Regions from separate parts of the Homo sapiens genome. Here regions 2, 3, 4, 5 and 6 are each linked to region 1. Evidence: fine-mapped expression QTL. A gene starts in region 1. Each other region holds a variant in brackets. All regions are shown on one strand. Distances are between the middles of the regions.

What was found. PIP is the estimated chance that this variant, and not a neighbour inherited with it, causes the effect.
Region 2: its variant is fine-mapped to the expression of ERC1 in whole blood (INTERVAL, PIP above 0.99).
Region 3: its variant is fine-mapped to the expression of ERC1 in CD4 T cells (Kasela 2017, PIP 0.93).
Region 4: its variant is fine-mapped to the expression of ERC1 in whole blood (INTERVAL, PIP above 0.99).
Region 5: its variant is fine-mapped to the expression of ERC1 in lung (TOPMed, PIP above 0.99). The same link has a PIP of 0.9 or more in fibroblasts and whole blood.
Region 6: its variant is fine-mapped to the expression of ERC1 in lung (TOPMed, PIP 0.97).

What each region holds. Positions count from the first base shown.
Region 1 is chr12:988,999-994,070 of GRCh38, forward strand. ERC1 (ELKS/RAB6-interacting/CAST family member 1) reads left to right here and starts at 2,225. Exons shown (of 19, transcript NM_178040.4): 1 at 2,225-2,324. It also overlaps a transcript of RAD52 not described here. RefSeq lists enhancers at 1,056-1,618, 2,180-2,741 and silencers at 1,440-1,489, 1,900-2,009, 2,030-2,539, 2,745-3,039.
Region 2 is chr12:1,494,841-1,499,912 of GRCh38, forward strand. ERC1 (ELKS/RAB6-interacting/CAST family member 1) reads left to right here. Exons shown (of 19, transcript NM_178040.4): 19 at 1-1,091. Among named protein-coding and RNA genes, the nearest start is that of LINC00942, 3.1 kb to the right of the region's middle. RefSeq lists an enhancer at 4,948-5,072. The variant A/G (reference allele first, on the strand shown) is at 2,929.
Region 3 is chr12:152,526-157,597 of GRCh38, forward strand. It overlaps IQSEC3 (IQ motif and Sec7 domain ArfGEF 3), which reads left to right. Exons shown (of 14, transcript NM_001170738.2): 6 at 4,500-4,622; 7 at 5,003-5,072. Among named protein-coding and RNA genes, the nearest start is that of IQSEC3-AS3, 5.9 kb to the left of the region's middle. RefSeq lists an enhancer at 511-1,425. The variant G/T (reference allele first, on the strand shown) is at 2,105.
Region 4 is chr12:1,021,946-1,027,017 of GRCh38, forward strand. All of the region lies in intron 1 of ERC1 (ELKS/RAB6-interacting/CAST family member 1), which reads left to right. Among named protein-coding and RNA genes, the nearest start is that of ERC1, 33 kb to the left of the region's middle. The variant G/GA (reference allele first, on the strand shown) is at 2,897.
Region 5 is chr12:1,164,891-1,169,962 of GRCh38, forward strand. The region is part of intron 8 of ERC1 (ELKS/RAB6-interacting/CAST family member 1); the gene reads left to right. Among named protein-coding and RNA genes, the nearest start is that of ERC1, 180 kb to the left of the region's middle. The variant A/G (reference allele first, on the strand shown) is at 3,035.
Region 6 is chr12:1,095,132-1,100,203 of GRCh38, forward strand. The region is part of intron 3 of ERC1 (ELKS/RAB6-interacting/CAST family member 1); the gene reads left to right. Among named protein-coding and RNA genes, the nearest start is that of ERC1, 110 kb to the left of the region's middle. The variant C/T (reference allele first, on the strand shown) is at 2,735.

The DNA.
Region 1 (5,072 bases):
GCTATTGTGCTAGAATAAAGAATACTTTACTCTTAGGCCCTTCAATACTCAGTTAACCCAAATCTCCCCAGATTATCAGAGTGCTTAATTTTAGCCTGGATAAATGCCTAGATATTGTATCTGAGATATAGGGAGGGTTCTGCTCTTCCTTATATAGACCTTTATTTAGTCTCCCTGGTCTCAACTCTGCTTCTCACTCTTGCTCTGTCTGGTAGTTATCTCCAAATCTCCGTCTCCCTAAAGCACTTCTGGGCTGACAGGTCCCCTTCCTTTCTACAGCACCCTCTACACCCATTCTACATTATGCTTTTCTCCATTTTATTTTGTCAGACCACACTTACTTTTTGCATGTCAAATAAAAAAAAATTATCTTCCGATGTCCCCCTTCTCATTTTCTATTTTGTATCACTTTTATTTATCATCATTTTATGGGGTCTCAGGAAGAAGAGACAGTAAATACATGTGCTCGGTTAGCTAGCTTTAATCAAAAATCCTAAACGTAGGTTTTAAAAAAGATAACTGGAGCAGGGCAGGAAATAATATTTTTTGCCAGTGTGGTGGCAAAAAATAAAAAACAAAAATCTGAATCTGTGTTAGGACAGTATTTCCGTGTATAACATAGCGCTTAGCAACTTAATTCTCCAGATCCACATATTTTAAGGACATGATGTATCTCAGACACCTACTTCAAACCTCACTTTACAGTTAAGTAAGACCACAAGTAGAATGAATTGCCTGAGGCCACACAAGTAGACAGTGGGAGAATGAGAACAGAAATATCTATTGACTCCTAGTTGAATTTTCTCTTACCTTACCACACTGCTAGGGAGTAACAAGATGGGCAGATCACGAGTCAGATGAGAAAGGTCATGAAAAATAGTCAAAGGATGACTTTTCCTGGGTAAATAGCCGGATGTCCAAGAAATGAAAGGCTGGTCTGGCAGCAGCACATCGTCTAACAGTTGGTAGTCATATGTGGGAAGTACTGAAGGGGGAGATGACAGCAGGCCCAGAAACTGCAATGATCCAAGTGCATGTCGATCCTGGGAGGGAACAGTTAAGAGTCCGGGCAGGATGAAACAGTAGAAACTGGTGAGTGAATGAATGTGAAGGCTGAGGAGCGACTGCAATTTGTTAATGGGATTATGAGGCAGTATAAAGTGGTTAATTACGGTGGCGGAGGTAAGCAGGAGTAAAATGATGGCTTTTAACTCCTCTCAAGGACACCGAAAATTATTTTAATAAACACTGGAAGGCTGGGAATAAATATAATTCACACCATTCTTACTTTCTTGGTTTAGAGATAGCTTATCTACATCCTTAAATTAATGGCTGTAGCTACCCTCTGCATGGCTCCAAAAAAAAAACAAAAAACAAAAAACAAAACCAAAGCCGGCTGCGAGTCTGCACGAGAAAATCGGGTTGCACCAGGCCCCAGCCGCCCGCCGATTCGCTTAGCTGTCGGAGGCTAAATAAACAGCTCCCGAAGCAGCGTTTGGCACAGCGCAGGGTCGGAACGTGGACACTAATTTCCGCCCACGCTCCCCGCGTCCTGGCGGGATCACCACAGACACGACGTCCATTGCTGGGGTCCTCGGCGATGCCCGTGTGCGCAGCCCCGCGAGTCTCAGGTCAGAAGACCACTAATTTCGCGGCCGCGTTCCACGAAGCTAAGGGGCAAAAAACCAGCTTTCTTGGGACAAAGCGTCCCCCCAGCAGCCAGGGTCGATCCCGGCGCTGCTCCCGCGGCGCTTGGCTGCCCCGGGCGTAACGGGCCACGAGAAGTAGGGGGTGGGGCGCCGCTTAGGTTTGGGAAGACACGAAGCGGCTCCTCGGGCTTCCAGCGTCCACTTCCTACGGCAAGCAGGAGGAGACAAGCGCCACCCTGCGCTCGCGGAGCCGACCCCGGCTCTCCCCTCCCGTGGCCGCAGGGGTCGTGTGTGTGTGTGTGTGAGTGTGTGTGTGTGTGCAGGGACGCTCCGCGCCCATCACTCTGTTTCGGTGCTAATCGACCGCCGTGGCGCCGATTTCCCCCGCTTCCCAGTTCCTCACCCGCGTGCCCCGGAAGGCGCCCGGAGGCCCCCGGGCCGCCGCGTCACGCTCCCGGGAGGCTGAGGGAAAGGGAGGCAGCCGAGCCGGGAGCCCGGGGAGGCGCGCTGCGCCCCGCGGCGGGGCTGGGGGCGGGGCTAGGTGTCTCGCGCAGGGGGCGGGGCGCGGTGACGTCGCGGGCGCCTGGGCCGTGCTGTGGCGGCGGCGGCGGCGGTAGTGGCGGCGGCGGCGGTGCCTGGGCGGCAGCAGCAGCAGTAGCGGCAGCCCTGAGGACGGTGAGACGGCCGCGGCGGCGGCGACAGCGCGGAAGTCGCGCGGGACCCAGAGCTTCCCCCCTGTCGCTAGTGCTGAGGCTTTCGCCTTTCCTACCCAGCTTCTTGCTCACGGCCCGGGCTGGGCTGGGCAGGGCAACGCGCCCCCGGGGAGGGGCGGAGCTGTAGGTGAGGCTTCGCGACCCCCTCCCCCTCCTCGGCAGCCCGGGGGGTGGGGAGGGGCGGGCCCCACCCAGACCACCGGCGCCCACCCGCGGGCTCCACCCAGCCGGGCTCCGGGATCGGGCGGGAGCCGAGGCGGTAGATGTGGGGATCCTGGGGCGGGAGGTGGGGGAGTGGGGACTGGGGCTCTGGGCACTTGGGGAGCGGAGGGGGGGAGGCTTAGGACTAGTGAAGCCGCGGACGAGGTAGTGGGGAGACGGAGAAATTGGGGAGCCATGAGGTTGGGGTGCGGTCAGGGTGGATCTTTGGGTTAGGTGAGTGATGTAAAATGCTGAAGATGATTCTTTTCTTTTCGATGAAATGGTGAGATAAAAGATGAAGTGTATTTCAAAAGGACGATGAGCTGTGCATGTTGCCTTTGAGGCAGTTGCAGAACCTATTTTATTGCACTAGATCTCACGTTTCTACTTTAGGGTTCGATTCTTTTTCTTCTGGCGGGGTGGGTGGGGGGTCGGAGAGGGAAGAGAATCCCCTTACTTTGGCTCAGGTAAATTGTGAGCGTGGATGTATCTGAAAGTTTTACACCGAAGAAGAGGGAGATCTTCGGTTTAGACAACTTCGTTCCGGCAGCCACCATTTGGGTCGCATTACGCTTAGCTCCTTCAAGGTGGTGTCTTCCAGTTTTTTTTCCCCCCAATGCCTAAAAGATCTCTTTATACCACCCTTTTACAGGCTTTATCCTGGCCCCTTGAGAGAAGGCCCCAAACTCAGGTGGTTGCTTTGGAAGGCACATTGCTGAATAATAGTTGCAGGTGGTTGTGGTTGACTGCTTTGGGTGGATAAAGTGAACAATTGGAATAGTTCTGTTGGAGCTAATTATATGAAAAATGCTTAAATGTTTTAAAGTACAACCGTCTTTTATAGCGTGTTGCTTGCTCAGTACACCTTGACTTTTAGACATTTTGTGTTCAGTGCTAAATTGTTGAAATTTTATTTCTCATTTGCAGTTATGTTTCTTGCAGTCTTTATTAAAACACTTTAAAATGAAATGGAACTCTTTTTTTTTGGTAGGCTCCTCAATTTCTGAGAAATGTTCTTGGAGTCAAGTGCTTTAAAAACATTTTGGGGGCAGGTGTGTCACTTTGTATGGAAATATTAGAGTAAGCAGTGTTCAATGTTCTTCACATCACTCTTTCACAACTTAGCACTGTAAATCAGAATCTTCTTTTCTGGATTCTTGCTCCCTGTTAGATTACAGTATTCTCTGGCCCTACTTATCAGTTAGTGTCATTTAAGCTATTTCTTGTTCAGAAAACAGGTCCCATGATGGACATGTATTATGTAATGGATGGAAGTAGACATGGCTCTCAATAATTCATTTATGGAGGAAGAGAAGCTGTCAGAAAGTGGGATTTAAGCAGTGACTTTCCCAAGGCTTGCCTAGTTTATTTGGGAAAATAGCCAGAGAAGTGCTTTCTTGTAACCCAAAAGAGAAATATACAGATAAGAATTTCAGTAGTTGCAGATCGTTGCTTTTTCTAAGTGCCTACTTAATGAGCAGATTATTGTCTTCCAGCAAATACTTCTACTTTATAGAGAGGTATGGGAAACAGGACATAATAGGTATTAAGTGAGAAAGTGTGTGTTCCAATTTTTAATTATAAATAAAAGATTTAATTAACTGTATTCAGTTAATTCATTTGGTAAAGTGAACAGTTTTGACTTTGGATTAGTTAGAAGGAAAACAAAATTGACATATCTAGTTTTCGCTTTTAAATTATACATAGACTTAATTAATTGGGACAAATGTGAACTAAGATACTGGGTAAAACTTGTGTGTACTCCTAAAATGACATTTGCATGGCTGGTAGTAAGCTGTGATTCTTGTCCTTGTAGGAATGAAATCACATAATTTGGGGAAAGTCTTAAGGTAAAAGTAAGCTATTTCGTTTAGCATTTCTTGTGCCTGAAATTATGCCTACATTTTATTTTTCAAAAAATGTTGCTTGCTAGTCATTACTTGTGATATCCTTGTTGAGTCTACTGAGGTGTTTTTTTTCCTTCATTACCTGTGTCATAGATAAGTATGCCAGTCTGTTAATTCAACATTAATACTGCAAACTTAAAAGTGAAGGTTCTTGGCCGGGCGCCGTGGCTCATGCCTGTAATCCCAGCACTTTGGGAGGCCGAGGCAGGCGGATCATGAGGTCAGGAGTTCGAGACTAGCCTGGCCAACATGGTGAAACCCTGTCTCTACTAAAAATATAAGAATTAGCTGGGCGTGGTGGCACATGCCTGTAATCCCAGCTACTCAGGAGGCTGAGGCAGAAGAATTGCTTGAGCCTGGGAGGCAGAGGCTGCAGTGAGCCGAGATCATGCCACTGCACTCCAGTCTGGGCTACAGAGCGAGATTCCATCTCAAAAAATAAAAATAAAAATTGGCTGGGTGTGGTGGTGCACACCTGTAACCCCAGCTACTCAGGAAGCTGAGGCAGGAGAATTGCTTGAACCTGGGAGGTGGAGCTTGCAGTGAGCCGAGATTGCACCACTGCACTCCAGCCTGAGTCACGGCAAAACTCCGTCTCAAAA
Region 2 (5,072 bases), 510 kb after region 1:
CAATATCTTGTTAATAAAGGAATTCAAGCTATGGGGCAGCCACACTCCCCTCCTCCCAGGCTGGCATAGGTGGCCCTGGGCTGGCGGCTTAGGAAGCATGGAGCACACTTAGGGTAGTGCCTGCCTGGGCAAGAGACACCTGCCGAGCAAAAGGAACGAGAATCTGGGGCTCAGAGCCTCGCAGTTGTGCCAGGATTTTCCTATACATGTTCAGGACCTCTGGGTAGAGGTTTCACAGTTTGTGACCCCATAACCACCCTCACCCGACGTGGGTTCTAGCTCAGTGTGCCTAATACTGCATGGTAACCTGGGCTTGACCCTGAAGCCCCTGCCTGGCAGGCCACAGGACCTCTCCTGCCCACTTGGTGCTATCTCTTCCAGTGACCACCCAGCACGGGTGAGCACTGGCCAGCCTGGAGCCTGCAATCCAGGTGGAACAGACTGTCCTCCATGTCAGTTCCTTCTGGCTTCAGGCCCTCAATTATTTCCCTTTGAGCTTTTTTAGACCCTAGATCTCCTAGGCCCAGGCTCTCTCTTGACCCCAGAGAAGCCACTGTCAGGAAAGGAAGTGAACCCTACTGAAGCCAGAGAATTCACCCCGGCCAAAGCAGGCCCTCTGGGTCCAGCCCCTCATTCCACACCACGCCAGTATTGCATCCATCTACTGCAGCTACACATCCTGAGGGCAGCACCACCCACTCTGGCCTGCTGGCCCATCGCAGGACTAGCCCAGGCACCTGCCGGGCATTGCAGGATATCCAGTGGGGCCTGTGACTGCTCCCTGATGCGTCAGAAGAGAAGTGTTGCACTTTAGTGGAGGAGCTGAGGAGCACCTGCCCCCTTGTAGCTTGAGTTCCTTTTGGTAACAGTAGCAGCCTCCATGGTGGTGTCTGGGATGCACGTGCACCCGCTGCCTTCAGCTGTATGTGTGTGTTCCTGCTGGAGTTGTGTTACTGACAGGATAATGACATTACAAAGAAATTGTGTTATATTCAACTTTGCCTTGATAATTATTGTAAACACTTTGTTCATTTTTTCTTTTTTATTCACAAACTAAATCCACCAGGAAATTATAAAGTTATTTAAAAACCGTGCTGTGTCCTTCTTTGAGTGTCACCCAGCTGATCATCCAGGCAAGGTGTGTCCCCAAATGCTAGAAAAGATGGACAAGGTCTGCAGTGCCCAAGAGGCCAACTCCAATGGCAGGCAGCCCGAGGGCCAGGGGTCCCAGGATTTACGGTGGGTGTGGGAGTCATCACAGCCCTGACGGGCATGAGCCTCCTTTCCCTTCCCGCCTGATCTCCGGGTTTGCAGCTTTTAAAGTCAATTCCCGGTTCCCTTTTTCCTTCTTTCTACCCTCAGCCCCGGGCCAGGTTATCCGTATCAGGTCTCACTGTTCCAGAGCTTAGAGTAGGTGCCCAGCGCTGAGGGATGGTGCTGCTGTTGTACCAAGGTAGAAGAGCCAGAAGGGCGGCCACCAAGGGAGGGCTTTGCCCAGGACTGGGACTCAAGCTTCAGCAGGGCGCGTTCTGATGCACTGACTCTGGGGCGTGCAGGCTGGGTCAACAGAAAGTGTGTGTGCCAAGAGTAAAAGGAGCCGAGAAACCCTGTGCTTGGACGCGGCTGTCATTTCCAGCTTTGGGATTTGTCTTGGGCTTTATGCTCAATAAGAAATTATTCTGGAGGATTTCTTTTATGAGAATTACTTTTCTGCTTAGCCACACTTCTGTGTCTGCCCGAGAGAGGAATCAAGCCAGCTTGCTGCATTCCTTCCCTCTCCCGTGTAAATTCTGCCACACGCTGGGTGTTGGCTCTTGGGAATTGTAGCAAGAGAGTCCAAACTCGTTCTTCCCGGTCGGCCCTCCCAGTGCCCAGGTCCCACCCTGGCCTCGCTCTCTGCAGCCACAGCAGCTGTTGGGAAGCTCTGCCAGGGGAGACGTGCCCGGGAGACAGGGCGCTGTGGACACGGCTGCAGGGCTGAGGTTGCTTGTACTTTCATCATATGAAGCAGGAACAATTTTACTAGCCGAGCATGTATTATTCTGCACAATATAAAATCACAACCACAAGCAAATGTGTCCACAGAAAGCTGTCAGATTACACTGGTCAGCTGTTTCCAAGGTTTCCCATTCATCTTTTTTACTATTTATTCACCCTGCATTCTACCAGTGCCCAGTTGCAGGCAAGTGGACACCGACAATAGATTTAAAGAAAATATGTGAAAACTTTTAAGAATTCCATCCATTAATTTTTTTTCGGAACTGAGAGAAGATAACTAGTACTTTATTTTTGAGGTGGAATATCTCAGGCTGGCTCAAAAATGATTAGGAGCTACTTAGGGACTGGGTGCTGTAGCTGAAACCTTTAATCCCAACACTTTGGGAGGCCAAGGTGGGAAGATCACTTGAGGCGAGGAGTTCGAGACCAGCCTGGACAACATAGTGAGACCTCTCTCGTTACAATAAATTAAAAATTTAGCAGGGCATGGTGGCATGTGCCTATAGTCCCAGCTGCTTTGGAGGCTGAGGCAAGAGGATGACTTGAGCCCAGGAGATGGAGGCTGCAGTGAGCTGCAGTGATCACACCACTGCACTCCAGCCTAGAGGTGCAGAGAGAAACCCTGTCTCAAAAAAAATAAATAGGCTCTGGGGCTGGGGGGAAGCTGGTGTGAGGTTTGTGAGCCTTCCCAGGTGTCCTGGAAAGGGCCCAGACTCGCAGACTGCAGCCCTGGGCTGCCGCTTGACCTCCCAGCCTCTTCTTCACCTCTGAAAGAATGCCTCCTTCATCCCTGTCCCCAGCCTAGGTCATAATGAAGGTGCCGTAGGATAATCTTTTTCCTTTTTGAAATTTTCTTTACAGAGCATAAATTGCTTTCTTAACATCTGCGATTCACTTAAAAATAATCAAGCATGTCTGTCGGGGAGGAGC[A/G]AGGGCGTGGAGACAAAAGATGGGCCAGAGGTCGGTAATTATGAAGCTGGGGAACTGCGTGCATGGGGTTTGTAAGTCCATTCTCCTTATTCTTGTGTTTGAATGTTTCCTGAATCAGTTAAATATTCACATCCTTCAACTGTACTTGCCCATACAGGCCTCTTCCTCCGAAGATCCAAGCACTCTGCATTCACAAAGGGCCACCGTAGCGCTCCGTTCAGAATTTGTACTTCCCTGTGTTCTAGACTCCAGGCTACAAATAATAAAAGCTAGTGACATGTGGACCACCTGCCAGCTTCAGTTCTGAGCACTGCACAGGTTTGGTGTCGGTTCACCTTCACAGCAGTCCTACAAGGTGGGTACTGTTATCCCACTTTACAGGAGAGGCACAAAGTGGACGCACGACCTTCCCAGCGCCACACAGCATGTTAGTGGTGAGACTGGAATTCACACCCGACTCTGTCTCCAGAGTGTGTGTTCTTCAGCCCACTGCTGTGGCCACCTCCCGGGGAGGACAGTCTGCTGGGGACAGCTAAGCCCAGTGAAGTGCAGTGGGGCACGAGAGCAGGCAGTGCTCGTCACACAACTTCAACAGGTGGATTTTGCCGGAAAAGGGGGTGAAGGGAAGCCAAAAAGACAGATGAGCAAGACCAGGGAGGTAGGAAAGTACGAGGAGGGCACTTGGGACAGCAAGTGGCCAGTGTGGACAGAGGACATGCGTACTGCCTGGCTTCAGAGCGACGAGGCGCGGCCGTGGCCGCAGGTGCAGCATGAAAGGGGATCCCCAGTGCCCTAGGAAGGAGGCCAGCTTGGGAGACACGATCTCACAGCCCCAGTGGTCCCGACCCCTCCCCAGCTACCGACGAAGAAAAGCCTCCCCAGGGGCTGATATAAAAAAGCAAAGGAAACACCCCTGGGCACATGCATTCTGGAGCTGCCAGCGTGTGACCTGAGGGAGGCTCCCCAGGCCACGTGCAGAGAAGCTACATGAGGGGACTCTGCTTTCCTAAGGGAAGGAGGATGTTCTTATTGATACATTGAGAGACACATCTGGCTCTGTCACCCAGGCTGGAGTGTAGCACTGCAATCATAGCTCACTGCAGCCTCGACCTCCTGGGCTCAAGTGATCCTCCTGCCTCAGCCTCCTGAGGAGCTGGGATAACAGGTGTGTGCCACCATGCCCAACTAATTTTTTAAACTCTTGTAGAGATGAGGTCTCACTATGTTGCCCAGACTGGTCTTGAATCCTGAGCTCAGGCAATCTTCCCTCCTCAGCCTCCCTAAGTGCTGGGATATAGGTGTTAGCCAAAGCACCAGCTGACATGGGACATTGTTTTTACCGCATCCAGGCAGGTGGGCCCTTTAGAAAGGGCATCACTCAATCTTCAGTTACTCAACATGAGGTCTGTATTTTGCCTCCCTTCACCTGCTTTTCTGGCAGAGAAACTAGAAATGAAAGATTAAGTTGCCCTGAGTTATACAGCAACTTAACTGGACCTGGGTTCAGAATGGGTCCATCGCTGCCAAACCTTTCTCTGGCCCCAGACTCCCTGACAGCCTCAGAGGGGTTGAGGCATCAGGGCCACACTGTGGCTGGGGGTTTCAGAGGAAAGAGAAAATAACATGCGTGGCTTGGTCACCATTACGGTGGATGTGAGTCACGTCAGGATTTCAGGCTCCGTTTGGCTCTGGGCAGTTGATTTCCTGGGAATGAGGCGATGAAGCCCTATGAATGTTCTCTCCTCCAGGCCCTCAATGGGACAGGAATGAGGTTTGCAGCTTGGTAGTGCCACTCCAGCCCTCCCTGTCCACAGGGACCATTCCTTTGCCGTGTCGTCTGGGGAAGAAGCCATCCCCTGCCATAGGCAATGGCTTACAGGGTGACCTGGGACATCCGTGCCTTCGGCTGGGTTCAGCCGTGAAGCACTCTTCTTCCCAACTCCTCCTGCTGCTCCCAGCGTGCGACATTCATCTTTCCCTTCCCAAGTTAACGCTCAGTTCTGTCTTGGCCGCCTTGGCACCTTCCCGGCCCCTCAGTCTCGGTCTCCACAGCACTTGGTCGGCTCAGCCTTGTTCGTGCGAGTCAAGAACTTGAGCCGCGCTGCTCTGAAGAGGGAGAGTCAGATGTGGGCAAAAAAAGTGCA
Region 3 (5,072 bases), 840 kb before region 1:
TGTCTAGTGTACTTCAGTCTCATATGTAATAAAAACATAATGGTACAATGGTTCATATTGCACAAGCTTGAGAAGATGAGGTCATTGCACACATAGTGAAGCACTTAGAGCCATACTCAGTACAGAGAGCTCAGAGGGAACTCCCCCGACTTGAGTAAGGGACCTCCCTGCCACCCCACACACACACAGGAGTGAAGAGAAGAGAGCCCAGTGGGGCAGGGAGAGGCCTCACAAGATTAGGAAGCTGAAAGCCTGCTCTCCCTAGCTGTGGGAGCATGGGGCCAGCCCTACGTGGCATTAGTTTTGTCTTCTGTAAAATGGGGAGATGATACACCAGAAAAGACCACCCGGGAATGTGTGGTGCTCTTTACCTTAAAGATGACCAATGAGGAGAGATGACTCCAGGCCACCCTGGGTGGAGGCTGCAGCATGGATTTGGTAAACTGCCCACACTCAGCTCCCCAAGAGGATTCCAGGGCAGCAAAGAAGGCTGGAAAGTGGGAATTAGGAGTGCTGGTAGACACTGCAAAATAAGAGAAGCAGCAGGACAGAGAGTGAGAGAAGGGGAGGGAGCAAAAGAGGGCACGGTGCAAGCAGAAGCTTATGCTCAGGGAGTGAACAGAGGAGGCTCATGCTGTAGAGGGCCGAGGCTTATAGGTGCTTCCAGGGGGACACGGACCCTGGAATGAGCAGGGCTTATGGTAGACAGCACAGTCCCACCCCCAGCCACCTTCCCCAGGATGACACAGGCCCCATCAGGAACGCAAACAGTGATCAGTGATTCCCCCTAGAGGAGGGTGGGGATGAAGCCACCAGCCAGCCAGGAGTGCTGCTGCGGGTCGTCTGCCCCCTGCCGTTGGGAGCGTCTGCAGTGCTTCAGAGATGGCCCGTGCCTCCGGGTGCCAGTCCTGAGAGGTCACCTGGTCCAACCCCCAGCTCTCCAGTGAGGAAGTGCCTTCCTCAGGCAGGAGGGTAGAGTGTCCCACCACTCAGCACAGCTTCCTCCCTTCCAGCTAGGGATTTCACAGCCAGAAAATGTCATTTTTTCCCCCAGGGTCTGAGAAACCCAGAATAGCACCTGTTCATGAAACACAGATACCCTGTGGTGGCAAATGCAGTGAGGGGAGGAAGGCAGGACGGCAGGTGCATAGCCAGGGGAAGAACTACATCTGTTTATGCCTCCATCCACCCCTCCCTCACCACCCCCATGCAAAAGCAGCCCCGATAGCCAGGTGGGGACACATGCCCCTAAGGACGGCTGCCTGGTGGCCTGTGAGTTGCTGGACTCACTTTAAAAGCCGCAGTGAGGCCTACCCTTGCACTCAGCTCAGTCTTTGGTTTCACAATTTAGGAACAACCGGGAGATCTTGCAGAGAATGCTGATTCCCAGGACTTGCCCCCAAATATTCTAATTTGCTGGGTCTGGGGTGGGGTCCAGCGAGCTGCATTTTAACAAACCACCTTATGACTCCGCTGTGGGGTCCTGAGAGCACACACTGGAAGATGTTGGATGAGAGGCCCTTCCAGCTCCACAGCCCAAGTGTCCACCCCTGCAGCCCTCCCCGCTTCGAGGCCCACGAGGGGTGTATTCAACTCCCATTCTGTGGGCCGACTTTTCAACCTGGCTGCTTCCCCCATCCCGGTCCTTGGCTCTCAGGCTCTCAGCTCACTACCGGGGCTTTTAGCAGCAGACTTGAGTGAGTGAACGGCTGCTTGTCACCTGAGTGAAGGGCTGGAAACTAGGCCATCGTGCTTGGCTGGGCAGATGCCACCCTCACCAGCTGCTCCCGCTGCCTCTGCGGCAGCCTGCCCCCACAGTGCCCTGGGCCTCCCAGCACCCCCACCATTGCAGGGTGAGACCTGGTCCATAGCCCTGGGGCAGAAGGCACTCAGAGAGAGGCTCTGGGAGGAACGTGGATGTGGGAAGCCGGGTGCCAGGACCTCAGCGTTCAGAAACAGGGAAGGGGTGGGGTGCACGACAGATGGGGGCAAGTCCTGGGGAGCAGCAGGATGGCACTCAGAGGGACCAAGGGCCGTTCTGGGGCCCTGAGGACCCAGGCCTCTTTCTTGGCCTCATAAGAGTCAGCGCCCCTGGGCTGAGAGG[G/T]TGGCATCTGGCCGCTCCATGCCGCCCCCACCACAGTCCGCGGTGCACTTCACATCTTCATCTCTACCAGACTTCTTCTGTCTCTTCCTCTTCCCCTCCTGTCCCTTCCTCTCCTCGTGCCTCTCTGTCTTTCCGCCTTCCTCCCTGTCTCTGTTTTTTGCTTGTTCTTTATCTCAGTCTCCGGTCTTGCTCCCTTTTTGCGATCTCTCTCCTGCCTTTTCCTCCTTGCCTGTCCCTCCCTTTCTCTCCTTGCTCTCTGTCGAATTAGACTTTCCTTGTCCTTCGCTGCCCCGCCCCATCTCTCTGGCCCACACGCTCTGACCCCCTTGCTGCGTGACCATGCTGGTTCACCTCCTCCAGGCTCTCTCTGTACTCATCGGACCACAGCCTCTTGGTCACCAGCCCTGGACAGTGTCACTGTGTGGCTCTGTTGTGCCCAGTTGCTGACTCCTGATGGGCTGGGCTACAGGAACACACGGATGTGGCCGCATAGGGCCTTTGGCACTCACGTAGGGCTGCAAAGGGTGCAGGGTGGAGGTGAGGAGGGCCACCGGGAAATCAGAGCAGCCTCTCGCCTGGCTGGCTCTGGAGGCCCCTGTTCCCCAGCCGTCAGCTCAACCTCAAATGCCCTGATCCTGGTGCTGCCGATTCTCATGCTTGGGCAAGATGCTGGCCTCCACCCCAGCCCCACCCTCACCTGCCCACTGTCCCGGCCAGCAAGCCTGAGAGGAGTGGGCTTTGACCAAGCCAAGGACAACTCATAGCCTGAAGATGGCCATGGGCCCTGCCTACGGGAGAGAGGCGAAAAGGAAAGAGGAGGAGAGACTCCCAGCTCCCTCTCGGCGCCCCCTCCCTTTCTAAGAGTCTTCGGTGATGCACTTTTCTCCTTGTTCTCCCCAGAAACCTGTGGGAGGCGGAGTCCATGGACCACCAGGCCCTGACCACCTCCACTGTGGCGTCTCCCCTTGTTTTCTCCTAAAAACTGACGGCAGAGTTGGGGGTCTCCAAGTCTTCTAGGCAGTGGGCACGAATGGAAGCTGAGGTCATGGAGGAAGTGGGTCCACCTCAGAGCTCATGTCACCATCACAGGGCCACTCAGCAGGCGTTTTCTGTGCTCTCGATGTGGTGGGCAGGCAGGCCAGGGGACCATGGGAGCAGAGTGGGACTGCTTGCCGGCAGTGGGCAGTGTCAGGGGCAGTGCAGGGGCTGTGCCATAGCCAGTGGGAGGAGACTAGGGTGAGTGGGTGTAGAGTGGGCAAACGTCAGCTCCAAGAGCCCAATCTAACGCGCTTGGTCTGCGTCTCCCAAAGGGAAAGCAATGCCCAGGGGACATTGGGTCCCCTGCTTTTCCAGGCCTGGACTCCTGCCTTGCTGCACATGGCCCTGGGGACAGGGCACCCCAAAGGAGGGTGAGGCAGGGTGAGGGGACTGGGAGGGTTCGGCCTCAGACCCTGCAGTGCAGAGTCCCCTGGATCGGGCTAGACCAGAGGAAGGCGCCTGCTTAGCTGGGGGGAACTGGCATGTGACCCCACACCCCCACCCACACACACTGAAGCTCGGGATGTTCACAGGCAAACCCCCCAGGGTTGGAGGCAGCATTTCAGAGGTAGCAAGGCCCTTGGGGAGCAGGGACTCCAGCCTCCTCCCTTTTCAGAAGGTCACACAGAGGCCCCAGGAGTGAGTGGGCAAGCCAGAGTCACACCAAGTTCGCAGGAGGGCCCAGACCAGAATCTGACCCTGCGTGTCACGCTGTCCCCTCACGTTAGGCACATTTGTCATTTACTCTTAGGCTGTGCCTCCCATCACAGCCTCCCCTGAGGGCTGGGGCAGCTGGGGGGAGCTGGGGCAGCTGTGGGGAGCTGGGGCAGCTGGGGGGAGCTGGGCTGCAGAAAGCCCCAGGGGCTTGAGGGGCTCTGCTCCTAACTGTTCAGCCTACAGCAGAAGGGATCCAACGGAGGACTCAGCCCCCTCAAGACCTAAATGAGAAAGTGAAATTTAAACCTGGGAGAAACACAGGCTCCTAGCGGGTCTCTGAAAGAACAGAAGAATCAATATGTTTACTGTATTATTTATGCTGAAAGCTTTGCTTGGGGTACTCTGAGGTTAAGAAGGAAGGAACTGGGATTTGGAGTTGGAAGATCCGAGTTCAGCCTCCCTCCACCCCTGTGTCCTGGGCCACCAAAGCCTCTCCTGGCCTCAGGGTTTGGGTTCCGAAAGGGCTACTGTGGCAGGTGGGAGGAGATGGTCCTCTTGGGGCATTAAAGGGCGACCCCCGGGGGTGAGTAGCCTGAGGGGCCCTGCACCTGTCCTGGCTGGGAACAGAGGCCAGCGAGAATGGGTGTTGGAGGGTGCTTAGGGTGCCACCTGACCTCACACCCTCCCTGCCTGCCCTCAGCTGCGTGGTGGACGAGATGGACTTCTCCAGCATGGAGCTGGACGAGGCCCTGCGCAAGTTCCAGGCACACATCCGTGTGCAGGGGGAGGCTCAGAAGGTGGAGCGGCTCATTGAGGCCTTCAGGTAAGGCCGCTTCCCAGCTCCACTCCCCAACAGACCCCAGCGTGGGGAAGCCGGGCCGCTGTGAGCCTGGGAGACAGGAGATGCTATCAGGAGGGTTGGACATTGGGCCAGAAACACCCCTTCTGGTGTGGGCAGGAGGATGGCTGGGGAGAAACAAGGGAAGGGAAGAAAAGGGACCGACCCCTCGAGCTCCCCAGGCTGGAAATGTGGGGCATTTGGGGGTGTGGGGAAAAAGACCAGAGTATGGGACAGACACTGGTCTCCCTGGACCTAAAGCCTTCGGAGAGCTGGGATACCCCCTGGACACCCCCTTCCTTTGTTGGGCCCGGGGGAGGGTGGGCGGGGGCTCAGCGTCCGCTCTGCATCTGACCCCCCCACAGCCAGCGCTACTGCATGTGCAACCCCGAAGTGGTTCAGCAGTTCCACAACCCCGACACCATCTTCATCCTC
Region 4 (5,072 bases), 33 kb after region 1:
ACCTGTAAGTAGGGTTAAATAAAATCCTAGTTCCTTCACAGTTCTCAACATTACTTATGTTTACTTTAGTGTGATACACTGTGAAAATAAGCTATACATTTTATTTTCTGTTCTATTTATCTGTTTATTTTAGAGATCCTATCTCTATTCTCCTATAGATAGGATCTTGCTATGTTGTCCAGGCTGGTCTTGAATTCCTGGACTCAAGCAATCCTACTTCCTTGGTCTCCCAAAGTGCTGGGATTACAGGCACAGGCTATTGTGCCTGGCCAAGAAGTACATTTTATATTGTGATCCAGTATGCACATGTGCATGCATATGCACACCTGAAACATTGCAGAAAACAATACTGTTATCTCTTGTTGCATTACAATTACTTCAGAACTTACTGGATTTGAAAAACAAACATCTCAGATTTCATGAAGAGTGTGTTGGGTGATTCTGGCTCAGGGTATGTAGTGATTTTATTTCATTTAAAACAAACAAGAAAACAAGCTTGGTTGCAGCTTATCAAGCTGATTTCACAACCTACTATTGGGTCATAATTCTAAGTTTGAAAAACACTGACTGGGGACTGTTACCGTTTGGCTGTGTCCCCAGCAATCTCATCTTGAATTGTAGTTCCCATAATCCCTACATGTTGTGGAGGGACCTGGTGGTAGCTGAATCGTGGGGTCGGTTACCCCATGCTGTTCTGATAGTGAGTGCTCACGAGATCGATTTTATTTTTTCTTTTTTGAGACAGAGTCTTGCTCTGTCACCCAGGCTTGAGTGCAGTGGCATAATCTTGGGTCACTGAAACCTTTGCCTCCTGGGTTCAAGTGAGCACGTCTGGGTAATATTTGTATTTTTAGTAGAGATAGGGTTTCACCATGTTGGCCAGGCTGGTCTTGAACTCCTGACCTCAAGTGATCCACTGACCTTGGCCTCCCAAAGTGTTGGGATTACAGGCGTTAGCCACCGCGCCCAGCCTAGATCTGATGGTTTTGTAAGGGGCTCTTCCCCCTTTGCTTGGCACTTCTTCCTGCCGCCATGTGAAGAAGGATGTGTTTGCTTCCCCTTCTGCCATGATTGTAAGCTTCTTGAGGCCTCCCCAGCCCTGCAGAACTGTGAGTCAATTAAACCTCTTTCTTTTATAAATTACCCAGTCTTATGGGTAGTTCTACATAGAGCTTGAGAATGGACTAATACAGGACTCTGAGGCTAGAGGCAGGCAGTCAGGTTAGAAAGTTGTTTTAATTCAGGTAGGATAGGATGGCATAAACCAAGGTAATAATTGTGGGAATGGAGGAAGAGGATCAATTTAAGAGGTACCTAGAAATCAAAGCAACAGGAATTGTATTGTTTTGATAATATGTGTGTATATGGAGTATGAAGATTTTGGGAGGACTCTCAGGCTCTGGCTTGAGCAGCTGATGTTATTCATGTGAATAGATGTTGTCCACTACCATGTTCTTTTTTTGATTTTTTTTTTTTCCCCTGCAGCAGCAGGTTTGGTTTTGGAATGGGGAGACCTTGATACGGAGTTCAGTTTGGGGGCATGGTGTATTTGAGGTGCATGTGAGGAGTATAAGTGAAGATGTCCAGAAGTGGGATACATAGTTTTGATTCTCAAAGGAGAAGTAAAAAAGTACTGGAGAAGTAGTGAATTTGGAGTCTTTGTTGTACATATGTTATTTTAAGCTGGTGGAGGCAGGGAGAAAGGATTTCTTAAGGATGATATTGTAGTGTGAGAATAACATAGGGATGAAGATCAGAAACATTTAAGGGAGGAACGAACAAAGAAGGAGGAGGGTTAGAAGAAAAGAGCATATGATATAAAGAAACCAAGAGAGGAGAGTGTCAAAAAATTGGGAGTGCTTAAGAAACAAGATGTATTATAGACAGAAGTTAAAAAGGCATTAGAGAGGAAAAGTGTTCATTAACTAAGGTTTCTCTGGAGAAGCCAGAGGGAATGGGGACTAAAGTACCCTGTGGAAGGATTAGCTGTAGCCCACTTCCATCAGAATAGAGGAAGTTAAGGATGGTTGTTGCTGTCAATGAACATGTGGAGAGAGAAAGTTGAGATAGTTCCTGTTTGATTTCTTTGTTTCTCTCTTATGTAGGAGATGAGATACGTAAATTTGATAGGGCTGCTGTAAGAAAGTACCATCAGCTGGGCACGGTGGCTCACGCCTGTAATCCCAGTACTTTGGGAGGCTGAGGCAGGCGAATCCGTTGGGCCCAGGAGTTCGAGACCAGACTGGGCAACATGGTGAAACCCCACCTCTACCAAAAATACAAAAATTAGCTGGGTGTGCTGATGCTCGCCTGTAGTCTCAGCTACTCGGGTGGCTGAGGTGGGAGAAGTGCTTGAGCCTGGGAGGTTGAGGCCACGGTGAGCTGTGATTGTACCACTGCACTCCAGCCTGGGTGACAGAGGAGACCTTGTCTCAACAAACAAAAACACAAAACATCTCCCGCCTCTCCACCCCGCTCCCCCCACAGGTTTGAAACCACCTGCCTGTTATTTCAAACCACCTGTGTGTTCACATTTTTGAGGACTTTTAACCTGTTTGACCAGAATAGATACTGTCTTTAGAATCTCATTTTTGACAATATGATTTACTTGGTACTGTTTTCAATGAAGAAACACTTATAAGAATCAATTTACATAACAATGGATTTTGGGAAAATATTGTTTAATATGCTGAAGCCTGTTGTTACTTGACCTAAGCCAATGCTTTGAAATGATGCTAGGAAATCAGAGAGATCTAGTTTAGATCTATATTGTCTTTGAAAGAAGTCTATAAAGTTGATAGCTATAGTTTAGTGGGTTCTGCATCCACAGCTCAAACCACCTGTGGACCAAAAATATTTGGGAAAGAATCTTAAAGTCACCTTGAAAAAAAAAGTG[G/GA]AAAAAAAAAAAAAAAGAAAATACTTGGGAAAAAATAATACAACATGGAAAAATAATACAAATAAAAAACACAATAAGTATAACAACGATTTACATAGCATCTACATTTTATTAAGTATTATAAGTAATTTAGAGATGATTTAAAGTATGCTGGAGGATATCCATAGGTTTTATGCAATTACTGTGTCATTTTGAATCAGGGACTTGAGCATCCTGGGATTTTTGTTGTCTGGGGCAGTCTTGGATATCTGGATACGTTCTACTGGAGCCAGTCCCCAGCAGATACCAAGGGACAACTGCCTGTGGTTTTAAAATTTGTTTTAGTTATACTTGTAGAGTATGAACATGTTTTCTTTTTTGAAAAAAAAATTCAGGTGCTTTATGGTAGTTTGAGTGTAAAGCTTTCTAAGTTGAGCTAAAGCCTCCACAAACATTTTTCCCCTTTATAACACAAGTTTCCTTCCCTCTAATTATCGCTGTTTCAAAATTGGCATTTCCCGTGTAGGAATTCTTTACATACTCTGTTTACAGATCATTATACTTATGTTCACTGTATTTTTCACCTAGCTTTTGGTTTATCTTTTAATTTTATTTACAGCATTTTTTGGTATAATACTTTGTCATTTTGACATAATTAAGTGTGTTGGTTGTTTTTCTTTATGGTTTTTGCTTCTGGTTTTTTATTTAAGAAGCCTTTTCCTAACTCAAGTTCACAAGGATATTCTTCAAAATTTTCTTCTAGTACTTTTAATGGCTTAAAAAATTTATATCTTTAATGTATATGGAATTTATTTTGGTGTACTATGTGAAGACGAGTATACGTTATGTTTCTCAAAGAGCAACAAGTATTTAAACTTCATTTATTGAGTGATTTTTCATTTCCTCACTGTATTAGTCTGTTCTCATGTTGCTAATACAGACATACCCGAGACTAGGTAATTTAAAAAGGAAAGTTTTTTTTTTTTTTTTTTTTTGAGACGGAGTCTCGCTCTTGTCACCCAGGCTGGAGTGCAGTGGCGCGATCTCGGCTCACTGCAATGTCTGCCGCCTGGGTTCAAGCTTCTTATGCCTCAGCCTCCTGAGTGGCTGGGATTACAGGCACCTGCCACCATGCTTGGTTAATTTTTGTACTTTTAGTGAGATTGGGTTTTGCCGTGTTGGTCAGGCTGGTCTCGAACTCTTGATGTCAGGTGATCCACCCGCCTTGGTCTCCCAAATTGCTGGAATTACAGATGTAAGCCACTGCACCCTGCCAGGAAAGAGGTTTAATGGACTCTCAGTTCCACATGGCTGGGGAGACCTCACAATCATGGCAGAAGGCGAATGAGGAGCAAAATTATGTCTTACATGGCGACAGGCAAGAGAACTTGTGCAGGGGAACTCCAATTTATAAAACTATCAGATCCCATGAGACGCACTCACTACCACCAGAACAGTAGAGGGGAAACTGCGCCCATGATTCAGTTAAGTACACCTGGCCCCACCCTTGATACATGAAGATGATTGCAATTCAAGGTGAGATTTGAGTGGGGACACAGCCAAACCATATCACTCACTGTTTGGAAACGTTACTTTTAACATATATTAAATTCCCATATATAATTTAGACCCTGTTCTTGGGCTAGTACTATACAGTTTTCGTTATTATAGTTTTACAAGGCTACAATACTTTGTAAGAAACCTTGCAGGTCAGATGTGGTTTTGTTGTCAGGAATTTTTTCCAGTAATACTTAGTGGACATTATGTAGTATCCAGTAATCACACACATTGTTTTCTTAATGAAATATATGAAGTCACACTATGTGGGATACATATAAACAGTAAGTAAGCTCAGATCAGGTCAAGGTTTGCTGCTAGATGAGTTAAAAGGAAAATCTTATTTTCAGAGGTTTTTGGATTTTTGCAGTACAAATGAAGAATTATGGATTTGTAATTTATGTTGCTGTTGAGGGCTGTCTTCCTTCCTTGTTCATCTATTTTAAATTGTTTGGTTACTCTTGTATCTTTACTCTCCATTTGAATTTTAGAGTCAGCTTGTTGAGTTACTTGAAAAATCCTTCAACACCTGTGAAAGGAAGGGATCTATAGCTGGTTAGCAAAATCCTGTAGAGATTTTTCACTGGGATTGTGCTAAGTAGTTGGGGAAGAACTAAATCTTAGCAGTGTTTGTCTTCTC
Region 5 (5,072 bases), 180 kb after region 1:
GCCTTATTAACCAGAATGGAAGTGGAATGTTTCTATTTCCATGTTCTGCTCAGTGTTTTAATCTGTTATTTTTAGGGTTTCTACTGTTATCTGTTGCTTTCAAACAAGCTACTCCAAACCAGAAAGAATTCTGAACAACTTAAGAGTTGTTTTACCTAATTCAGGAATTACCACAGAGTATAAATGTAATTCATAGGAAGAAAGTACAGAAGAATAAGGTATGTGGAAAGGAAGAGGACTAACAGAAGGTGAATTAATGCTACTTACTGATTTTGGCAATTCACCTTGGGTGAGAAGCACGACTGTCTAGATGGAAACTCTTGTGTATTAGTGATCTAACAAGAACCAGTGTGCTTGCTACAAGACTGCCTTTTAGAAGATAGAGGTGTGTATAGATGATACACAGAATGCAGGAGAATTTTTTTTTTTTTTTGAGATGGAGTCTCGCTCTGTTGCCCCGGCTGGAGTGCAGTGGCGCGATCTTGGCTCACTGCAAGTTCCGCCTCCCGGGTTCACGCCATTCTCCTGCCTCAGCCTCCCGAGTAGCTGGGACTACAGGCGCCTGCCACCATGCCCGGCGAATTTTTTTGTATTTTTAGTAGAGACGGGGTTTCACCGTGTTAGCCAAGATGGTCTTGATCTCCTGACCTCATGATCCACCCGCCTCGGCCTCCCAAAGTGCTGGGATTACCTCGGCCTCCCAAAGTGCTGGGATTACAGGTATGAGCCACCGCGCCTGGCGAGAATTTTTAAGAACATTAAGAAGAAATAAACATGGCTAAACTGTTTTGTGTTATTTGAGGGGGATAAAGCAAGATACATCTCAGAACTTAGAGTGTTTTCACAATTCGTTGATGGATATTGCTTTGACCTAGCACTGAGGGGTTAATTTGGATGGAATTTTTTTTCCAATCGAGCTAGAATTCACAGATCATAAAATTTACCATTTTAAACTATATGATTCAGTGGTTTTCAGAATATTTACAATGTTGTGCAACCATCATCACTGTCCAATTTTCATCACTTCAGAAAGAAACTCACACCTGCTGGCAATTACAACCCCTCATCCTCTGACAACCAGTAACCTCCTTTTTGTCTCTATGGATTTGCCTATACTGGATGAGACCTTCGACTGTGAACTTTTGAGCTAATGCTGAAATGAGTTAAGGCTTTGGGGGATATTGGTTTTGAAATGTGAAGACATGAGATTTGGGAGGGGCTGGGTCGAAATGATGTGGTTTGGCTGTGTCCCCACCCATATCTCATCTTGAATTGTAATAACCACAGTTCCCATGTATTGTGCGAGGGACCCAGTGGGAGGCAATTGCATCATGGGATGGGTCTTTCTCGTGCTGTTCTTGCAATAGTGAATAAGTCTCACGAGATCTGATGGTTTTATAAAGAGAAGCTCCCCTGCACAAGCTCTCTCTGTCTTTGCCTTGTGCCTTCCAAGCAAGTCACATGGTGGCTTGCCTTCCAACATGATTGTGAGGCCTCCCTATTCATGTGCAACTGTAAGTCCATTAAACCTCTTTTTCTTCCCAGTCTCAGATATGTCTTTATCAGCAGCATGAAAATGGACAAATACAGAAGGCTTTCAGTCTTCACCTTGAAGTATGATGTTGACTGTGGGTTTTTCATAGATGCTGTTTATCAGGTTGAGAATTCCCTTCCATTCCTAGCTTGTTGCATGTTTTTATCATAAAAAGATGTTGGATTTTATAAAATTCTTTTTCTGTATCTATTGAGATGATCATTTGGTTTTTCTCCTGTATTCTGTTAATGTGGTACATTATATTGATTGATTTTTGTATTTTGAAACTAACCTTGCATTCCTGGGTAAAGATAGATTTGTTTTTAAATAGCTTTGTGTTTTTCAGCTGGATGAATGTAGAAACTTGTTCTATCAGCATTATTATGGAGACAATAGAAGTGGACCTGAGAGAATATAGCCTTTGGATAAATGCTTAATTTTCAAGTGCTAAGGTGTAATATAAATGGACATATGCAAAGGCTTATATTGTAATATTTTTACATCATGGAAATAATTTTGACTCATTAAACATTATTTCTTTGGGCTTTTAAGTAACTTAGTGAATAATTTGAGGATCTGTGCTTATCTGTGTCGTTTCTCATCTGTTGTTAATACGCCACATTAATGTTCTCAGAGTCTTGCAAGTTCTAGTTGAGTGTTTTGACCGAGCACACATTTTAAACTTGAAAATTGATAATTATCAAGTCAATAAGGAAGGGTCAGATCCCTCTTCTGACAAAGATTGTTCTTAGTTGTTTCTCAGGAGATCCTGTAGCAGGAACTTGTCAGAGTAGTAAATACACAGACACATATCTAGAAAAAGACAAAAGATTTAGGGAAAAGTGCCTGGTCGCAGTTTTAAAGCAGAGTCAATATTTTCTTCTGCTTAAAAACTGCTTATAACTTGACATAAATTCTCTTACATTGCATTCTCATCTGTGGGAATGGCTGTTTGGTTAGATGCCCAGGTATCTGTCAACTCTAGTTGAGAAATTGAAGTAACTAACCACGTGAAGAAGTTATTAAATCAGACTCTGATGAAGCAGCCTTTTATGCTCTTCCTTTTTCCTGCTACACCAGTATGTATATCCTAACCAGAAAATAGCTTCAAGAATCAGACATCTATTTTGTTCTTTATCTGTTTTATCTTCCTGTAATTGTCAGACTTCCTCAATTTTTTCTCCTAATGATTTTTTTTTCCTAAAGGAGTTTTTCAGATTAGAAAAATCATGTAATTTTACAGAGAAAAATTTGCAAAATTCTATAAGATCTTTGGGCTTCTTTTTTCTTTTCTTTTTTTTTTTTTTTCCGAGATGGAGTCTCGCTCTGTTGCCCAGGCTGGAGTGCAGTGGCGTGATCTCAGCTCACTGCAACCTCCGCCTCCTGGGTTCCAGCAGTTCCCCTGCCTCAGCCTCCTTAGTACTCGGGACTACAGGCGCGCGCCACCACACCCTGCTAATTTTTTATTTTTACTGCAGACGGGGTTTCAGCATGTTGGCC[A/G]GGATGCTCTCGATCTCCTGACCTTGTGATCCACCCACCTTGGCCTCCCCAAGTGCTGGGATTGCAGGCGTGAGTCACCGCGCCCCGTCAGCCTTTGGGCTTCTTATATACAGTGCATATAGGTAAGAAACTGACATTTGGATTTGTTTCATTGCATCCCATTCAGGCTGAACTCTGCCTTATACACAGCAAATTTGGTATTTTTATTTTTTTTGAGACAGGGTCTCATTCTGTCACCCAGGCTGCCGTGTAGTGGTGCGATCGTGGCTCACTGCAGCCTCAACTTCCTGGGCTCAGGTGATCCTCCTACCTCAGTGCTGCAAGGAACTAAGACTACAGTTGTACAGCACCATGCCTGGCTGACTGTTAATAGTTTTTGTAGTAGAGATGGGTTTCGCCATGTTGCTTAGGCTAGTCTCAAACTCCTGGGATCAAGTGATCTACCCGCGTCAGCCTTATGAAGTGCTGGGATTACAGGTGTGAGCCACTGCACTGGCCAAATTTGGCACTTCTATAAAGCAGCTAAGCAAACAACTTTAAATGAAGTGACTGGTCTTTTTTTTTTTTTTTTTTTTTGGAGGAGGAGTCTTGCTTTTGTCGCCTAGGCTGGAGTGCAATGGCGCAATCTTAGCTCACTGCAACCATCGCCTCCCAGGTTCAAGCAATTCTCCTGCCTCAGCCTCCCGAGTAGCTGGGATTACAGGTGCCCACCACCACACCCGGCTAATTTTTTTGTATTTTTAGTAGAGATGGGGTTTTGCCATGTTGGTCAGGCTGGTCTTGAACTCCTAACCTCAGATGATCTGCCCGCCTCGGCCTCCCAAAGTGCTGAGATTATAGGCGTGAGCCATCGTGCCGGCTGTGACGGGTCATTTTAAACAACATTCTGGATTCTTGAAAAGAATGCCACCGATTAATAATTTGTAACTTCTCTTATGCTTTTGACAGTCTGATGAAAGCTATGGGCTTTCTCCAGGTAAAAGTGTGCATAGTTCATTTGTGTGAACTGAGATATAATATACACCTTAAAGTTTATCCATGAACTTCTGATTAAAAACACCCACCTTTCACCATGACATGGTGAAGAAAAAAATAATCAGAAACACTCACCATCTATGGAACAACCAAGTTGGTGATATACACTGGTTTCTAGGTTTTACAAAATCATAAAATATGTGTATGGTTCAAATACAACAGAAATTCATGGCAACTACAATTTCATGTTAATTATAATTTAACTAGAAAGAGTGTAGCTGTTGGGTATGGTGGATGCTGCGATGATCGATGCAACCTAGGTCTCTCCTGATTGTTGAAGGACTTATTTCCCCAGATCGCTGGAAGTGTTATCAACAGAAAGCCCTCCACTTTCCCTAGAGATTGTCTTAGCTAAAGACACCACCTTGCCCGAGGGCAAGCCCCCTCCCATGGACATCCAGTGATTGATCCTTATGAGGTGCCATGGTTTGAATTCCTTCCCCCTACTTGGGACAACAGCTTCAGAGCTCCTCGTGGGGTTGTCAGAATCCTTTGGGACTTCGTGGCAGCTGAATCGCTCCCTCTGTACAATCCTCATTTTTCTCCTCCTATCTACTGACTCCGATCCCAAAGAGCACCGTCTAATAAACTTCTTGCATAATAATGTCTGTCTCAGGGTCTGCTTTCCGGGAAACCCAGTCTTGGGTAGAATACAGGGTAGGATATGAGTGCAAGTCAGCATCTTTCAACCCATAAAAGTAGACCTGGCGAAAATAAAAATTCAATGAGATGAACTTGAATTTAAATTAAAAATAAGTGAAACATCTCATCATATTTCCTTCACACCTTATATTCAAGTAGTTTTTCAGAGTCTTGGTTTCTTTGAATTTATTTGTGTCTCTCAGTCTTTCTTTGAAGAAAGACTCCCCAAATCTCTGAAAGCTTGGTTTGTTTGGTTACACATTATGAACTTGTGAAAGGTGTGGGTTAAATAATACAGTTGCTTACATGCCCCAAAGAAACCCCTAGAGGTTTTCTATGTTGGCAGGTGAATATGATAAGA
Region 6 (5,072 bases), 110 kb after region 1:
ATTATTAAATTTTGTTTCTCAGGCGTGGTGGCTCATACCTGTAATCCCAGCACTTTGGGAGGCTTAGGTGGGCAGATCACTTGAGGTCAGGAGTTCAAGATCAGCCTGGCCAACATGCTGAAATGCCGTCTCTACTAAAAATACAAATATTAGCCAGGCATGGTGGTGCATGCCTGCGGTCCTAGCTATTTGGGAGGCTGAGGCAGGAGAATCGCTTGAACTCGGGAGGTGGAGGTTGCAGTGAGCCGAGATTGTGCCACTGCACCAAAAAAAAAAAAAAAATTGTTTCTAACTTGTTTATTTTCTAAATATAAATTAGTCATTATTCTTTAGTTATTTAAGGAGAGAAAATGAACATATTTTTTATGGTCTACCACATTTGAAAGTATATTATAGCAACATTAAATGGACTAAGACAAAAAAAGACAAATAGACTATATAACAAGATTCAGATACTTCTACCTCTAATTTTTTCAAATGAAAATTTTCAGCCAAAAAGGAGTGAAATAAAGTGACCAAATAGCATATTCTACTTCTTACACTTCTTTGAATAGTACTTCTATTTCCAGTCTTCTCTCTCTATTGACAATGCGGGAGGCATAGGCTTGATGTGCTTGGTGGGAAAGGGGAGCTTATGAGCTCACTGACTGGAAGATGTGTTCATAGTGAACTGTAAGGTGCAGGCTTCTGAATGGGAGTTTGTTTTGAGCAATGGGTTTTAAAACGTCTTTGTAGAAAAGCTTTATGCCTATGGATGGTTTAAAATACACCCCAATTCTTTATTGTACGCAGGGAAGGATTTTTTTTTTTTTTTTTTGAGATAGGGTCTGACTTTGTCACCTAGAGTGCAGTGGCGTGATCTTGGCTCATTGCGGCCTCCACCTCCCAGGCTCAAGCAGTCCTCCTGCCTCAGCCCCCGCAAGTGGCTGGGACTACACATGAGCACCACCACACCCAGCTAGTTTTATGTGTTTTTCATAGAGATGGGGATTCACCGTGTTGCCCAGGCTGGTCTCGAACTACTGAGCTCAAGTGATCTGCCTGCCTTGGTTTCCCAAAGTGTTTGGATTACAGGCATGAGCCACTGCACCCAGTCAGGACTTTTTATTCAAATGGATTTTTCGGTTTTCTTTAGGAATTAGGTGATGCTCAAGAGGAGAAATCAGATGAAATAAGTTGAAAATCTAAATTGTGTGTTATTTTTTAAAAAATGCAGTTTTAATATTTTCAAGTAGATACAGAAATACCAAATAAAAATGTTGTAAAGTATAGGTTATAAAATTTTGTTAATAAATGAAGATTGTTTACAGTTAGCAGAGTTCATTTTATTTTTACTCAGACAATTTAAAGTTCGACACTCATTTATTGAACAAATACTGTTAAATATCTACCGTGTGCCCAGTCAATCACCTTGTAGTGTGCAGAACAGATTCAACATGGACAAACTAGGCTGGGAGGAGGCTGACGAGTTTGTCGTTTTAAGGCAGGTGAGAGATTATTATGGCCTAAACTAATTAATGTGTTAGGTGTTGGGATGGAAGAAAACAAATAATTTTAAGAGATTTTAAAAACTCTTTTTTGATACAATATGGAATGCATGTAAGAAATAGAATAAAACAGGTGTATAGTTAAGTAAATTATAAAGTAAGCACCCTCATAACCACTACCTAGGTCTAGAAATAGAACTTTCACAGCCACCCAGAAGTCCTGTACGTGAACCAACCCAGCCAGAACTCTCCCTTCCCTCTAAAAGTAACCAGTGTTCTGGGTTTTATAGTTATCATGCCTTTGCTTATTATACTTATCACATCTGATCCTTACTATCATAGTATTGTTATCTTGTATTATATGTTAAATTAATATCATTCCTAGGTATCATCCCTAAGAATTATGTCTTTGTTTTGTCTGTTTTTCAAAAATATGCTTTAAATCTCTTAATTACCGATTTGCCCTTAATTCCTCCTTTTTTTTCTCGTGCAGTTGGAGCATTTCTTGGCTTATTAGCTGGAATGACAATTCCATCATCTTTGTAATATCCATGTTTATTTCAGTGGAATGACTTCTCTCCTGGTTGTAGGTCATATTTTCCTACTTCGTGTGTATAGAATTTGTGGTATGATGGACATTTTGGACACAAGGTGATTGAGTATCTGGATTTTGGTACCTTCCTTAATGAAGGGTTGTTTTGTCTGGCAAGAGTTAATTTACTTGGGGATTAACTTGATCCTTTCAAGACTTGCTTTTAAACTCTGTTAGGCCTGGTTTAGAATAGCCTTTTCTCTAGGCTACATCAGCTCTACTCCTAAGCTTGACCTTTTAGTGTCTCTACTAAATGCCTCTGCTGTTCTCCCCACTATTTGGAACTTGAATTTTTCCCAGCCCTATGGGGTTCAGGTAGTTACTCAACTCATGGCTCTCTGATAGTTGCTCTTTCTCCAGTAGCTCTTGATCTTATTTTGTGGCAGCTTGCCCTATACATGCACAGCTTAGTATTTGGCCAAAGACTCAAGGGGACCCTTGTCAGGTTAGACAGTGCTGCTTTTCTGGTAAGCTCCCTTCTCTGTGTTTTGTTTTTAATTTTTAATTTTTTTTTTTTTTTTTGAGACAGAGTCTCACTCTGTTGCCCAAGCTGGAGTGCAATGTCGCGATCTCGGCTGACTGTAACCTCTGCCCCCCAGGTTCAAGCGATTCTCCTTCCTCAGCCTCCCGAGTAGCTGGGATTGCAGGTGCCCCC[C/T]ACCATGCTCAGCTACTTTTTGTATTTTTGGAAGAGACGGGGTTTTGCCATGTTTGCCAGGCTGGTCTTGAACTCCTGGCCTCAAGTGATCTGCCCGCCTTGGCCTCCCAAAGTGCTGGGATTACAGGCGTGAGCCATGGTGCCCGGACCTCTGGTATTTTGCTCCGCAAAGTTTTGCAGATTAATGGGAACCTTACTCATTAAACTGTCTTTGGAGCTTTGCAAGACTGCTGTTCTTTGTTTGGGCTTTCCCTCCCTACGCCCCATACTAGACATATCTGGGCCATCACCTTGTTTATTTTCTCTCAAGGATCATAGTCCTGTATTGCTTGTTATCCAGGGTCTGAAAACAGTTATTTCATGCATTTTGTTTAATTTTATGATAGTTTATGACAGGAAGGCCCATCTCACCTTATGGTCAAAGTGAGAAGTATAATGGTAAATTTATTGAAAGATTTAAAGCAGATTAATGCCATGATTTGTGGATATTTTATCAAGATCACCCTGGTGCTCTCTTGAAAATAGACAAAGGAGGTGGAAGAAAGCTAACTAGAGGCTGTTGCAAACTAGACTGGAAATGGGGTGAAATGGTTAGACTCAAGAAATACTTCCGCACTAGAACAGTTAGGACCTGCTGTTGACTTGGTTGTGGGAAATGAATATCAGGAGGAGAAAAAGGAGAGCTTTGGTGTTTGGCTTGAGCCACTGGAATGGCAGTGCCATTTAATGAGACAGAGAAGACTCATCTCTCATCAGAGTCACCAGATGATGGGTGAGATTGAAGAAGAGGAAATCAAGAATTTTTTTTGATAAAATAAGTGTGAGTTGCCTGTTAGACATCTAAATAGAGATGCCAAATGGGCAGTTGGATGTATGAGTCCTGAAATCAGAGCAGAGGGCAGGCCTAGAAATTCATCAGCATTTCCGTTGTATTTTAAACCATGTAGTAGATTAAAGAGTTTAGATGGAAAAGAGAAAAAGGTTAGAACTGATCACCTGGTCACTGGTCTAATTTAGACCTGGAGGTCTGATTTAGAAGGAAGAACCTGTGAAGGAAACAGAGAAAGTGCAACTGGAGAGTGAGAACTAAAAACAGGAGAGTGTGATGTCCTAATAGTCAAGAGAAAACAAGTGTCTAGGAGGGATTGGGCCGTTGCTTTGAATGCTTCTGAGAGTTCCAGGGAGATGAGGACAGAAATGTGTTTGTTAGAGTTGGTAACTTAGAATTCGTTGGTGGTCTTGATGAGTTGTTTCAATGGAGGGGTAGAGAAACAAGCCAGATTAGGCTGCTTTTATGAGGTAAAGGGAATCTTGTATGTCTGAAATATTTTAAAATTAATTAAAATAAAAAGAGTGAATGGGAGAGGGAGAGGAAGAAGGAGAGATAGCAGGTGTGGACCAGCTGTCTTCAGGGCAGGCATTTGAACACCTTGGAGTTCACAGAGACTCTGCAGTGGTGTGTGGGCAGTTTCAGATTCTCAACTCCCATGTGTCATTCTCTGGATTTTAGTTGGCCGAAAACATACCTGTGAGATCATCTTTCCCCTCCCTTTTTATGGTTGCACTTTGCCCACTCTAACTCCTGTTCATCCTTCAGCTCTCAGGTGTTCCTTAGGAAACTTTACAAGATCCCAAGACTACGTCAGGATCTCCTAATTACTCTCTTACAGTATTGTGGATATTTTCTTTATAACACTTTTTACATATGAATTATACAGTTACTTAAAAAGTATTTTCATTCATTTGACAAATATTTGAGTACTATCATTGTACTGTGTATTGTTCTGGGTGCTGATATACATCAGAGAATAAAAAAGAAAAATTCCTGGGATAGGAGAGACAAACAATAAACAAACAGTTATAAATACCAAGAAAAAAGTAGATCTTGGTTAGGGAGATTGGGGATGTATATTAGAGTCAAATCATAAGTGAAAATGGGGTAATAAGGATGAGCCTGCTTGAGACTTTGATTTTTTTTTTTTTTTTTTTTTTTTTTTTTTTTGACAGAGTCTTGCTCTGTCACCCAGGCTGGACTGCAGTGGCACCATCTCGGCTCACTGCAACCTCCACCTCCTGGGTTCAAGCCATTCTCCTGCCTCAGCCTCCCCAGTAGCTGGGATTGCAGGTGCGCACCACCAGGCCCAGCTAATTTTTTTGTATTTTTAGTAGAGATAAGATTTTACCATGTTGGCCAGGCTGGTCTTGAACTCCTGACCTCGTGATCCACCCGCCTCGGCCTCCCAAAGTGCTGGGATTACAGGCATGAACCACCGCTCCCAGCCGAGACTTTGACTTTTGAACAGACTTCAACAGTTAAGGGAAGGAGAGAGCCTGTCAA